Regions from separate parts of the Homo sapiens genome. Here region 1 is linked to region 2. A link means that fine-mapping ties the variant in region 2 to the expression of a gene that starts in the linked region. Tissue or cell type: transverse colon. Region 2 holds a variant in brackets; the other region holds the start of a gene. All regions are shown on one strand. Distances are from middle to middle.

Region 1 (4,378 bases), 58 kb after region 2:
ATTGCCTTGCTGAGAAGGAAAAAAGAAAATTTTATAGTTGAGTGCTATTTCTTTTGCGGCACCAAAACTTTATTTATAATGCTGGCAAGCCTAAAATTTGTAGGTCAAGTTAGAGACCCAGGAAAGAGCTGAAGGCAGTCTGGGGGCAGGATTCCTTCTTCCTCAGAGGACCTTAGTCTTTTCTCTTATGACCTTCCCTTGACGGGATGAGGCCAACCCACCTTGTGGAGGACCAACTGCTTTACTCAAGTCTAATTTAACTGTTAATCACATCTTAAAAAATACCAGCTATCATAGTACTCCAGAACAAAGGCAGTCAGTGTCTCTGCTCACAAAACACGGGAAAGTGCAGGTGACCCATGGAGAATTGTCCCCCAACACTATGTTTTTTCTTTTTTTGGATGGAGTTTCGCTCTTGTCACCCAGGCTGGAGTGCAATACCACCATCTTGGCTCACTGCAACCTCTACCTCCTGGGTTCAAGAGATTCTCCTGCCTTAGCCTCCTGAGTAGCTGGGATTTATTACAGGCGCCTGCCACCTCGCCGGGCTAATTTTTGTATTTTTAGTAGAGACAGGGTTTCACCACGTTGGCCAGGCTGGTCTCCAACTCCTCACCTCAGGTGATCCGCCAGCCTCAGCCTCCCAAAGTGCTGGGATTATAGGCATGAGCCACTGCGCCCGGCCAACACTACTTATTTTATAAAAACTCATTAATTACTGGTGTCTTTAGACTCCCTCTGTCCCTCCCCTCCATCCCCAACATTTACTTTTAAAATTTAAGACAAAACTTAAACATTAAACAATTATGAATTTAATTCCCCCATTTATATTACATTGATTAAGCTTTACACTATGACCCAGGTTCTAGGTGGTTGGGACACAATGGTTCAATCCCTGTCTAGTAAATAAAACGGACACCTTAAGCGCTACAATCAAGGTGCGCACGGGGTGCTACAGAACAATACGCAGACAGGAGGAGGTGGGGGGAAAGGTGAGACTTCCCAGGCAGGTGTCATCCCAGAATAACTTTTACACAGGGTGACTAAGCGAGTTAGTGACTGCGCGGAAAACGGGCTTCCAAGGTTCACAAGGCTCGTGCTGCGGCTCCGGGAGTTATGTCACAGTAAGCTTACTATCATCCTTTGGGCATCTGCTTTACGGATGAGTTCATCAGGATTTAAAGGATCTTGGTTCCATATCCTTCCCCTTCCTCACAGAGGCCGCCAGCCCGGAGCCCCTCTAGGCCCTCCTCCCTCCTGCATCTACTGGCCGCGAGCCTTTCCCTCCCCGCCCCCTTCACACAGGCCGCCCCCAGCCTCCCAACCCCCCGGTTCCGTTCCACGGGAGGCCCCGGCCTCCCTGCCCTCTCCTCCACCGTTCTACCCGCATCGCCCGGCTTCCCGCAAGCCGCTGGCACCGTCCCCTCAACACCCTCCGCCCACCGCCACTCCCTTCCACTGAGGGGGACCGGGCTGCCTTCTCTCTGACCCGCCGTTCTCCGCCCCCACCCACTTCCCCAGGCCTCCCGCACCACCCCCTTCCCGCCGCGCTCTCTCCCGCCCCCGCGCTTCCGGCCCCGCCCGCCCCCGCGCGGAGGACTGTGGGAGCGGCTTCCTTGGATTCCGCGCTTGGCAACGGCTCGGCGTCGCGCTTTGGCCAACCGCTGCGTCGTCCCTGGGCCCGAATAACTGTCGCCCGCTTCCCTCAGCGTGAGGTAGGAGAAGGGCGCTGGGGCCTAGTGCCTCAGGGCCCCTGGCAGCCGTGCCCCTGCGGCGTCCTGTGTGGCGCATCCCGCCGAGGGCCTCTTCGCCCGTCTCCTGCCCGCCCCTGTCGGCCCCGGGGCGGTCTGAGGCGGGGCCCCAGATGGACTCGGCCTGCCCCTGCTTTTCTTCCTCAGGCTCCCGAGTTGTCTACTCAGAAACGCGGGCGTTGTTTCTCACATCGGTGTCCCCAGCTCACAGGCTTTTCTTGCTCCTCTGAACTGGGACGGGCGTCGCTGACCGCTTGGCGATGTCCCAAGTCCCAGTCACGCCTGACGGGGAAACTTAAAACCCAGTTAGATTACTGCGCCAGCTCTGGAATCGCACAGCAGAGATGGTGCACATCGCTCTTTAATTTTCTTGTTAGGTGAAGCACTTCAAATTGCCTGATGAAAGTTGAATCAGGAATGAAGATAAAAGTACACAACAATGCAGAAAGCGGTACTTAGCCTCACAAAGATGGAAACATTCCAAAAACGTGAAGTACTGTTGTCCCAAGATTCTTTCTAAGCCTAAAATTACACTTTTACTAGTCCGATTTTCTGGTTGTGAGTTTTTTTTGTTTGTTTTTTTTTTTTCGAGAAACTGCAGTAGGCTTCTTGGAAGTAGACCAAGGGTGTCCAATCTTTGGCTTCCCTGGGCCACATCGGAAGAAGAATTGTCTTGGGCCACACATGAAATTCACAAACACTAAGGTAGCCGATGAGCTTTAAAAAAAATCGCAAAAAAGAATCTCATAATGCTTCCAGAAAGTTTACGAATTTGTGTTGGGCCACATTCAAAGCCGTCCTGTGCCACGTGCGGGCCGGGGTTGGAAAAGCTTGAAGTAGACTGTCCATAGTCAGTAGAAGAGTATTAAAAAACATACCTTTCACTTAAAAAAAAAAAAGGTTTTGCCAGCATTTGATTTATATTAAACATAGGTGGCATCATCCCCAGATTATTTCAACATGGAAAAGTTTGTTACATGTATAAGCTGCTTTGGAAATTGCCTGGAGAATCCAGAAACCCTGGGTTGTATAACAACAGTTGTTCTGCCACCCATAGCTATTAGCCATGCTTGATTCCCTTCAACTTTCCTGGCCTCACTTTCCACATCTTTTAATATTTGTATGTTCCACAAGATGTCTATTCAACTAAAGTCTCAAGTCAAACCTTTTAAAAATCTGGTTACAACCTAGCAGAAAGGATTTCTCATTCTAAAAGTTGCTTCCTTCTATAACTTATGTGTCAACTAAGCTGACTTAAATAGGGTTCATAATCAGAAATTATGGTTCAGAATAGTGGTTCTCAAAGTGGTCCCCAGACCAGTAGCCTCAGCATCACTTGGGTTTAAGAACCACTGGTTTAGTATTATCTGAGCTAAAGCTTTTAATTAAAAATATTTTATATATCTTTTACCAGTGACTTTTAATACCTTTTTTTTTCTTTTTGAGACGGAGTCGCACGCTCTGTTGCCCAGGCTGGAGTGCAGTGGCGGCAATCTCGGTTTACTGCAAGCTCCGCCTCCCGGGTTCATGCCATTCTCCTGCCTCAGCCTCCCGAGTAGCTGGGACTACAGGCGCCCGCCACCATGCCCAGCTAATTTTTTGTATTTTTAGTAGAGACGGGGTTTCACCGTGTTAGCCAGGATGGTCTCGATCTCCTGACCTCGTGATCCGCCCGCCTCGGCCTCCCAGAGTGTTGGGATTACAAGCGTGAGCCACGACGCCTGGCCCTTTTAATAACCTTTTGAAGCTATTTTGGAATGCCATTTCTATGTGGGTGACATTTGCCCTCATAGTAGTTAATTTTCATCTTCAAAAAGTAATGAGAAATTAACTCAAAATGGATCAATGACCTAAATATAAGAGCTAAAACTGTTAGAAAAAAAGCATAGGTATAAATATTCTTGACCTTAGATTAGGCAGTTCTTTCTTAGATATGATACCAAAAGTACGTGCAACCAAAGGAAAAATAAATTGTATATCATCAAAATTTAAAACTTTTGGCCAGGCGTGGTGGCTCACGCCTGTAATCCCAGCACTTTGGGAGGCCGAGCCGGGCGGATCACGAGGTCAGGAGATCGAGACCATCCTGGCTAACACGGTGAAACCCCGTCTCTACTAAAAATACAAAAAATTAGCCGGGCGTGGTGGCGGGCGCCTGTAGTCCCAGCTGCTGGAGAGGCTGAGGCAGGAGAATGGCGTGAACTCGGGAGGCGGAGCTTTCAGTGAGCCGAGATCGCGCCACTGCACTCCAGCCTGGGTGACAGAGCGAGACTCCGTCCCAAAAAAAAAAAAAATTTTTTTAAACTTTTGTGCTTCAGAGGATAGTACAAAGAATGTAAAATGATGTACAGAATGGGAGAAAGTATTTGTAAATCATTTATATAATGTTTAGTATCAGGAATATATACAGGATCCTTATAATTCATGTGATAACCTGATTTTTGGGAATGAGCTGGCCGGGCGCGGTGGTTCACGCCTGTAATCCCAGCACTCTGGGAGGCCGAGGTGGGCGGATCACAAGGTCAGGAGATCGAGACCATACCGGCTAATACGGTGAAACCCCATCTCTACTAAAAATAAAAATAAAAATAAAAATAAAAAAATTAGCCGGGCTTGGTGGCGGGTGC
Region 2 (4,391 bases):
GGAGATCGAGACCATCCTGGCTAACACAGTGAAACCCCGTCTCTACTAAAAATATAAAAAATTAGCTGGGCGTGGTGGCGAGCACCTGTAGCCCCAGCTACTCCGGAGGCTGAGGCAGGAGAATGGCATGAACCTGGGAGGCGGAGCTTGCAGTGAGCCAAGATCGAGCCACTGCACTCCAGCCTGGGCAACAGAGCAAGACTTTTCATCTCAAAAAAAAAAAGAAAAAAGAAAAAAAAAAGTCCATGCCTGGCCAGGCACAGTGGTTCACAACTGTAATCCCAGCACCTTGGGAGGCTGAGGTGAGCTGATCACTTCCAGACAAGCCTGGCCAATATGGCGAAACCCTGTCTCTACAAAAAAATACAAAAATTAGCTGGGCGTGGTGGTGCACACCCCTAATCCCAGCTACTTGGGAGCCTGAGGTGAGAGGATCAACTGAACCCAGGAAGTGGAGGCTGCAGTGAGCCAAGATCACACCACCCCACTCCAGCCTGGGTGATGGAGACAGACATGGTCTCAAAAAAAATAAAATAAAATAAATGTCCAGGCCTCCTGAAAAGCCAGGATAGCCCTCAAGGACAGAAGGAGAAGCATTTTTTAGCAGCCACCATTTCCAAAGTGGAGCTTGCTATGCTCTTTAATACACAAATGTGGGAATAAAAGATGAATTTAATTAAGTAGATGTAATTTACTCAGGAAGACCACAAATTCCTTAACATTCTTTACAATTATAAAATTAACGGCTTTTTTATTATCAATAAATTACTTCCTATTGCTCCCTAAATCACCTCCATAAAACCAAATATTAAGCTGTTTGTGTTACATTTCCTGTGATGCCTTTTAAAAACATTTTGGGCTGGGTGCAGTGGCTCACGCCTGTAATCCCAGCACTTTGGGAGGCCAAGATGGGTGGATCACGAGGTCAGGAGATCGAGACCATCCTGGCTAACACAGTGAAACCCCGTCTCTGCTAAAAATACAAAAAAAAATTAGCCGGGCGTGGTGGCGGGCGCCTGTAGTCCCAGCTACTCAGGAGGCTGAGGCAGGAGAATGGCATGAACCTAGGAGGTGGAGCTTGCAGCGAGCAGAGATCGCTCCACTGCACTCCACTCCGGCCTAGGTGGCAGAGCGAGACTCCAAAAAAAAAAAAAAAAAAAAAAAAAAACAAAAAAAAAAAACTGACAACAACAACATTTTGGGCCAGGCTCAGTGGCTCACACCTATAATCCCATATAATCCTAGCACTTCGGGAGGCTGAGGTGGGTGGATCACCTGAGGTCAGGAGTCAGCCTGACTAACATGGTGAAACCCCACCTCTACTAAAAATACCAAATTTAACCAGGCGTGGTGGCTTGTGCCTGTAATCTCAGCTAATTGGGAGGCCGAGACAGGCGAATTGCTTGAACCCAGGAGGCAGAGGTTGCAGTGAGCCAAGATCGCGCCATTGCACTCCAGCCTGGGCAACAAGAGCAAAACTCAATCCCCAAAAAAAAAAAAAAAAAATTGATTCAATCTGAAAACATCTTTTTGCCTCATAGTTTTTTGTTTTGTTTTGTTTTGTTTTTAGAATTAGTGCTCTATCAAGGGTTTTTTTTTTCTTTCTCCTGACTATATGACTTTGAGCTATTTTTACTGAGGCTTAAAATTTATTTCAAGACTACCTGAAGACTTCTACTTCCAGCACTATGATGGACCAGAATCCCTGAAGGGCCTCTCTTTTCAAAATCTCAGGATCCTTCATAAAACTAGTTTTTATGCACAGAGAGTCGCAGCAAATGCAGAAAGAAAAAATTTTAAGGCTTCCCCTTTAATCAAAAATGTTTTTACATTAAAAAGTACTACTCAAAGAAGATATGCAGATGACAAACATA[C/T]GAAAAGATGCTCCACATCATATGTCATCAGAGAAATGCAAGTCAAAACAAGGAGATGCCATTAGGCCAGGCTTGGTGGCTCACACCTGTAATCCCAGCACTTTGGGAGGCCGAGGCGGGTGGATCACCTGAGGTCAGGAGTTTGAGACCAGCCTGGTCAATGTGGTGAAAACCTATCTCTACTAAAAATACAAAAAAATTAGCTGGGCGTAGTGGCAGTCGCCTGTAATCCCAGCTACTCGGGAGGCTGAGGCAGGAGAATCGCTTGAACCTGGGAGGCAGAGGTTGCAGTGAGCCGAGATCGTGCCATTGCACTCCAGCCTGAGCTACAGAGGGAGACTGTCTCAAAACAAAACAAGAAACAAAAAAACAAGGAGATACCATTATTTGCCTATTAGAATGGCTAAAATCCAGAACACTGACACCACCACATGCTGGTAAGGATATGGAGCAATGGGATCTCTCCTTCATTGTTGGTGGGAATGCAAAATAGGACAGCCATTTTGGAAGGCAGTTTTGCAATTTCTTACAAAGCTAAACAACCTGTTACCATCCAATCTAGCAATTGTGCTTTTTGGTATTCACCCAAAGGAGTTGGAAACTTATGTCCATACAAAAACCTGCACATGGAATTTAGAGCAACTTTACTCATAATTGCCAAAACCTGGAAGCACCCAAGATGTTCTTCAGTGGGTGAATAGATAAATAAATTGTGGTACATCCAGGCAATGCAATATCATTCAAGCTCAAGCCATGAAAAGACATGGAGGAAACTTAAATGCATTTTACTAAGTAAAAGAAGCCAGTCTGCAAAGCCTACATACTGTATGATTTCAATTATATAACATTCTGGAAAAGGTAAAACTGTGGAGACCGTAAAAGGATCAGTGGTTGCCAGCGGTTGGGGGGAAGGGAGGGATGGAAAGGAAGAATTTGAGAGCAGTGGGATTATTCTGTGTAATACTACAAGGGTAGATACATGTCAGTATACATTTCTCCAAATCCATAGAGTGTAAACACCAAGTGAATCTTTTTTTTTTTTTTTTTTCAAGACAGAGTCTCACTCTGTAGCCCAAGCTGGAGTGCAATGGTGTGATCTCAGCTCACTGCAATCTCCGCCACCCAGGCTCAAGTGACTCTCATGTCTCAGCCTCTCGAGTAGCTGGGATTACAGGTGCCCGCCACCATGCCCAGATAATTTTTTTGATTTTAGTAGAGATAGAGTTTCACCATGTTGCTTAGGGTGGTCTCCAACTCCTGAGCTCAGGCAAAAGGGTTTATTACGAGAATTTAATACAGTAAGATTACTAGGCCACAAGCTCCGTGGCAAAAAAAAAGACTGTGTCTACATTATCCACTATGTATCCCTAGTGAACAGAACATGGCTGGCAGGTAGTTGGTTCTGAAATGCCAAGTCCCCTTCCTTCCAAAACAGTACAGTCTATGTGAGTGGTTTTTCGGTGTTGTTTTACTTTTGATTTTTGTCTGGTTGGCTTTGCATTTTATTATTTTATTTATGTTGAGGCAAAGTCTCACTCTGCTGCCCAGGCTGGAGTACAGTGGTGCAATCATAGCTCACTGTAGCCTGGAACTACTGGGCTCAAGCAATCCTTCTGCCTCAGCCTCCCGAGTAGCTAGGACTACTATCTAGGTGGGTGCCAACACATTGGCTATTTTTTTCTTTTTTTTCTGTAGAGACGGGGTCTCACTATGTTGCCCACACTGGTCTTGAACTCCTGGCCTCAAATGATCCTCCCACCTCAGCCTCCCAAAGTGCTGGGATTACAGGTGTGAGCTACCAGGCCTGGACAAGGTTTTTGTTTTTTAGATTGACATTTTACCCTCGCATTGACTATTTGTAACAACATGGAAGAAGTAACTTAACTTCTCTGTGTTCAAGTTCTTAATGTGTAAAACAACACCAGGTTAGGGTATATAATTTCTTCATGCCTATAGTTTAACACTATACCCTACATATTAATCTTTTCAAAATGCAGACAATAAAGTAAGCATATTTTTGTTGCACAAAAATGCAAATTCAAGTCATATATTCATGGACACCCTCCAAATAAGGATAATAACCAGCTAACGCGTGTCTGAGATGGTCAGAACCCTGTTCCGTGACGGCACCGCAGGGGGACGCGCCATGCGGTGAGGGTGCTCCACGCCAGTGCCTTTGCTTCTGGGCACGCTGCAATGGCTTCTTTCCCCTGTCCTTGACCTCCCTCACTCTCAGCCTTTCTTTGGTTCCCGTGACTACCATCCCTAAAACAGCCCTCCGCATTCTTAGCACTCAGCATTAAGTAAATTCATGCACTCTCACACCTTTAACTAGTACCGCTGTCACAGTTAATAATAACCACATAAACAGCTCCAGTTCTGTCCTCTCACATGAGTGCTAAACCTCTAACTAAAATTCAAGATGTTTTCATTTGGGTCCTACCATTACTAGATCAACAGGTCAAAACAAGCTGCAGGACCTCTGTTCCTAAACTGTAATGCCCCTGCAGCTATGGC

The links. PIP is the estimated chance that this variant, and not a neighbour inherited with it, causes the effect. A credible set is the group of variants that fine-mapping cannot tell apart.
Region 1: IFT88 starts here. The variant in region 2 is the best candidate, but not a certain one, in a credible set for the expression of IFT88 in transverse colon (GTEx, PIP 0.62).

The regions. Positions count from the first base shown.
Region 1 is chr13:20,565,542-20,569,919 of GRCh38, forward strand. IFT88 (intraflagellar transport 88) reads left to right here and starts at 1,616. Exons shown (of 26, transcript NM_006531.5): 1 at 1,616-1,715. It overlaps LOC105370103 (a long non-coding RNA gene), which reads right to left and starts at 1,488. Exons shown (of 6, transcript XR_941725.3): 1 at 1,135-1,488; 2 at 1-9. RefSeq lists silencers at 1,316-1,725, 1,821-2,009.
Region 2 is chr13:20,507,708-20,512,098 of GRCh38, forward strand. All of the region lies in intron 2 of CRYL1 (crystallin lambda 1), which reads right to left. Among named protein-coding and RNA genes, the nearest start is that of CRYL1, 16 kb to the right of the region's middle. The variant C/T (reference allele first, on the strand shown) is at 1,875.